2 separate regions of the Homo sapiens genome follow, and region 1 is linked to region 2. Evidence: fine-mapped expression QTL. Tissue or cell type: whole blood. Region 2 holds a variant in brackets; the other region holds the start of a gene. All regions are shown on one strand. Distances are between the middles of the regions.

Region 1 (2,625 bases), 32 kb before region 2:
TGCCTATGCCCCTGGCCGAATAAACCCCTTCCTTCTTTACCTCGGTGTCTGAGGAGTTTTTTCTGTGGCTGGTCCTGCTACAAAGGAAGAGTAAGCTGTGGGTACTCAGAAGAACAAGTTCCCTGTGACTGGACCTTCAGAGACAAGAGACCAAAGTGGAGCTGCAGAGATGAGCAGCAGTCTGCCCGTCCTGCGGCCTCTCTCCTCGGACTAACCAGAGGGCTGCTAATTTATCAGGAAAGCTATGGACAGCATCCAAAAAGTTACCAGAAGGCAAGTAAAAGGATAACCTTCAAAAGGGCCTTACTTCTGAAGACTGAGTACCTAAGACTCCTTCGCCTCATACCCAGATCCAGATAAGGGCTCTCATCCCTGCTGAACCTCATCATGAGGTTGCTTTATGAAAAGTGAAAACAAAGCTTCATTGCACAGGCTTCTTCGGGAGAAAGGAGGAAGGAATTTGCTGCCTCTGAATAAAAGAAAATTCTGATCCACGTTGGCAAAATGGAAAAATCAAAATGACAGAATAGGAATGTGGGGTATGATAAGGTTTCTCTTCAAATAGCCTGATCAATCCTTTATTCTTTAATTCACAGTGCCCCTCCCCACTTCACTTTTCTTCTCTTCTCTTTCCTTTCTGCTTTTGCTACATGCCTAGACATGTCACAGTACCAGGCGTTATCAGTACCAACTCACATTCCTTTCCTTATTTTGGAAGAAGATTAGTTATCTAGCTCATCACACACACCCCTTCCCCATCTCCCCTCTCTCCCTCACGTGCCCACCTTATCTAAAGAAAGTTAAAATGTTTAGCCAACTGAGTCTAGTTTAGATTGTGTGGCCGACTCCAGCCAATGGGGAAAGGGCAAAGGGGTAGGATTTGCGTCAGGAATAAAAACTTTCTTCCTCCTTTGTTCTAGTGTGCTCTCATGGCGACTGGCAAAGAAGAAGCACCCCTCTGCACAGAAATAAAATTGCTTTGCTGAGAAATCCTTTGTTTGAGTGCTCGTCTCCCTTAAGATTCTGAGCTTTATTTCCAACAAGGAAGGTGATGGAGGTACCTAGATTGAAGAAATGAATGGTCCCTCTAGGAAACAAGCAAGGCTTTTTGCTTTTGCAAACCTCTCTTCTTTAAAGGTTACCCCTCTCCCAGACTCAGTGCTTTCTTCCTCTGCCATCTCAGCAGACAGTTCACAAGCTGCCTCTTTTTGTTTATGCAGAGCAGCTTCAGAACTACAAATTAAACTCACCCAGACACAATCAATCTATTCTTCTCAAAGCCTCCCATTCTATGCTCCCACAGATTGCTCCACTCACCTTCAGTCCAAAGCAGAGGAGTCTTGAATCAGGGGAGAAGAGTGAAGGCAGGGCAGGAGCCGGTGTAAACCAGATTCACTCACCAAGCCAGAGGGCTGGTCTCCACAAATGAGTTTCCCCACAGGAGCTGAGTGAGAAACGAAAGTTAAATTCTCAGAAGTGAAAGAAAACAAAGGAAGCTGAACAAGAACTTACATAACAATAAACCCTGGGGAAAGTAATGCTACATTATGTTCTAGCATCTGCTGTACTGGCAAGGCACTCAGTCACTACTTCCTTATTCTTACTGTGGTTTACTCAAGCAAGAATATTTGAATAAAAAGAATGTGAATTACAGTTATACAGCTTGCCTGAATACTTAGAATTCCAATGCAGTCCTATAATTATTAGTCGAATTTATCTTATATTTAAGACCTAAGCCAGGAAAATAAAGATCCAGAGACTTGGGACCTAGCTTCTTGAAATGCAGTCTGACGAGGAAGATACTCAGTTATAAAGCTCTACAAATTTGGGCTGACAAGATGAGTATTAGCAGCTGACATTGTGAATGGTAAAAAAATTATTTTTATAAATAAAAGGATCTTTAGTGTGAGCCCATTGAAAAAAATGTTCTCAAAATGTCATTAAATCTTAAGAGTCCATCAATTAATTATCACTTCCTGCTCCTAATCCAGACAGACCAGATGAGGATGGATTCCAGAGAGTAATAGAGGTAAAACTGTGTCAGTGTCATGTTACCCAGCCACTGAGGCAGGTGAGAACATGGAAGTTAACAGATGATGCTGTTTAATTATAATCATTCATTGAGTTACTCTCATGCCTTCATAATTTTTCCACTTTTCCCTGCTTCTCTAAGAAAAGTTTGGTCATTTTTACACAATCAATTAAAAAGCAGCACTGAAACATGTTATACGTCATGCACATACTTCTGTACCCTGTTGTCTATTGTATTCTTGTTTAACTGCATGTGCCAGATAATGCCATCAAAAACTGATGGAGGCCTGTGGTGTCTCATGCCTGTAATCCCAGCACTCTGGGAGGCCCAGGTGGGTGGATCACTTGAGTCCAGGACTTCAACACCAGCCTGGGCAACATGGTGAAATCCCATCTCTAAGAAAAATTAAAAAAAAAAAAATAGCTGGGTGTGGTGATGTGCACCTGTAGTCCCAGCTACTCAGGAAACTGAGATGGGAGGATGGCTTGAGCCCAGGAGGTGGAGGTTGCATTGAGCCAAGATTGCGTCATTGCACCATAGCACTGCAGCCTGGGTGACATAGTAAGACCCTGTCTCTACAAAAAACAAACAAA
Region 2 (2,771 bases):
CACTGTACTCTTTTTTTTTATACTTTAAGTTCTAGGGTACATGTGCACAATGTGCAGGTTTGTTACATATGTATACATGTGCCGTGTTGGTTTGGTGCACCCATTAACTCGTCATTTACATTAGGTATTTCTCCTAATACTATCCCTCCCCCAGGCGCCCACCCTACCACAGGCCTCAGTGTGTGATGTTCCCCGCCCTGTGTCCAAGTGTTCTCATTGTTCAATTCCCACCTACAAGTGAGAACATGCGGTGTTTGGTTTTCTGTCCTTGTGATAGTTTGCTGAGAATGATGGTTTCCAGCTTCATCCATGTCCCTGCAAAGGACATGAACTCATCCTTTTTTGTAGCTGCATAGTATTCCATGGTGTATAGTGCCACATTTGACCCAGCGATCCCATTACTGGGTATGTGCCCAAAGGATTATAAATCATGCTGCTATAAAGACACATGCACACACTGTACTCTTTCTAACAAAACTTCATGTCCTCACCCATAGATCAACATTAGAAACCTTGCACAAAATGTGAAAATCAAGTAAACCTGAAGGCACTAGAAAGTGACAAAAGCAGTCAGAATATTCAGGGTAATAGACACTTAGAAAAATATAACAGTATTGGAGGAGTTTCCTCTTTGCTGCCTGCAGGTGGCTTGTGTTTATCTGCTCTGACCCTCTGCCTTATTGCAAGGACAGAGGGCTTTCTGTATCCCAGGTTCTTGCCTTAACGTATCAGAAAAATTGGATCACACGTGGGCTTGGAGAACGAGTGCAAGGTTTTTTATCGAGTGGTAGTAGCTCTCAGCGAGGTGGATGAAGAGGCCAGAAGGAAGATGGAGTAGGAAGGTGGATTTCCCTGGAGTTGGGCCACCCAGCAGCCAGGCTGTCCTCTGACATCCCCGACCAATCTCTGCATCGGTCCATTGGTCGCTGGCCTTCCAGCATGTGCTGGTGCCTGTTGGTGTGTTCTTCTACCAATTTGCTACTCTTAACATTCAGTTGCTTGTGTCTCTTCCTGCTATAGGCACAGGATGGGGGCATAGCAGGCCAGGGTGATCTTGGAAAATGCAACATTTGGGCACAAAAACGGAAATTCCTGTCCTCACCTAAGTCTGTGGGCCCAGGCCCCAGGAGTGGAGGCTTTGTCAGGGACCGTGCCTTTCTCTTTTCAGCACTTCCCTGCACCCCTCTCATATAATTAGCAGCTGTCATTCTGAATGGGAAAAATA[A/G]ACTTATTTTTCTAAATAAAAGGATTTTGCCAGACATGGTGGCTCAGGCCTGTAATCCCAGCACTTTGGGAGGCCGAGGCTCTCAGATCACTTGAGGTCAGGAGTTAGAGACCAGCCTGGCCAACATGGTGAAACTCTGTCTCTACTAAAACTACAAAAATTTGCCGGGCATGGTGGTGCAGGCCTGTAGTCCCAGCTATTCCAGAATATAATACAATATAATATATATATATATTTATATATATTATATTATAAATATATATATATTATATTATAAATATATATTATATATAATATATAAATAATATATATAATGCATTATATATAATATATAAATATATATTATATATAATGCATTATATATAATATATAAATAATATATATAAATGCATTATATATAATATATAAATAATATATATAATGCATTATATATAATATATAAATATATATATAAATGCATTATATATAAATATTTTATATATATATACACTTTAAGTTCTGGGATACATGTGCAGAACGTGCAGGTTTGTTACACAGGTATACACGTACCATGGTGGTTTGCTGCACCCATTAACCTGTCATCTAAATTAGGTATTTATCCTAATGCGATCCCTTCCCTAGTCCCCCACCCATCGAAGGCCCTGGTGTGTGATGTTCCCCTCCCTGTGTCCATGTGTTCACATTGTTCAACTCCCACTTATAAGTGAGAACATGCAGTGTTTGGTTTTCTGTTCCTGTGTTAGTTTGCTGAGAATGATGGTTTCCAGCTTCATCCATGTCCCTGCAAAGGACATGAACTCATCCTTTTTTGTAGCTGCATAGTATTCCATGATGTATATGTGCCACATTTTCTTTATCCAGTCTATCATTGATAGGCATTTGGGTTGGTTCCAAATCTTTGCTATTGTGAATAGTGCTGCAATAAACATATGTGTGCATGTGTCTTTGTAGTAGAATGATTTACAATCCTTTGAGTATATACCCAGTAATGGGATTACTGTGTCAAATGGTATTTCTGGTTCTAGATACTTGAGGAATCGCCACACTATCTTCCACAATGGTCGAACCAATTTATACTCCCACCTACAGTGTAAAAGTGTTCCTATTTCTCCACATCATCTCCAGCATCTGTTGTTTCCTGACTTTTTAATGATCGCCATTCTAACTGGAGTGAGATGGTATCTCATTGTGGTTTTGATTTGCATTTCTCTAGTAACCAGTGATGATGGGTTTTTTTTCAAATGTTTGTTGGCCGCATAAATGTCTTCTTTTAAGAAGTGTCTGTTCATGGCCTGTCGTAGTGGCTCACGCCTATAATCCCAGTACTTTGGGAGGCCGAGGTGGGCGGATCACCTAAGGTTGGGAGTTCGAGACCAGCCTGACCAACATGGAGAAACTCCATCTCTACTAAAAATACAAAACTAGCCGGGCATGGTGGTGCATGCCTGTAATCCCAGCTACTTGGGAGGCTGAGGCAGGAAGAATTGCTTGAACCTGGGAGGCAGAGGTTGCAGTAAGCCAAGATCACACCACTGCACTCTGGTGT

Evidence for each region. PIP is the estimated chance that this variant, and not a neighbour inherited with it, causes the effect.
Region 1: it holds the start of TRIM22, and the variant in region 2 is fine-mapped to the expression of TRIM22 in whole blood (INTERVAL, PIP above 0.99).

Annotation. Positions count from the first base shown.
Region 1 is chr11:5,688,592-5,691,216 of GRCh38, reverse strand. TRIM22 (tripartite motif containing 22) reads right to left here and starts at 1,427. Exons shown (of 8, transcript NM_006074.5): 1 at 1,318-1,427. It overlaps LOC124902620 (a long non-coding RNA gene), which reads left to right. Exons shown (of 2, transcript XR_007062561.1): 1 at 1-539; 2 at 921-990. RefSeq lists enhancers at 608-707, 123-1,322, 1,294-1,633, 755-1,747.
Region 2 is chr11:5,656,397-5,659,167 of GRCh38, reverse strand. The region is part of intron 1 of LOC107984302 (a long non-coding RNA gene); the gene reads left to right. It also overlaps a transcript of TRIM5 not described here. Among named protein-coding and RNA genes, the nearest start is that of TRIM5, 27 kb to the left of the region's middle. The variant A/G (reference allele first, on the strand shown) is at 1,226.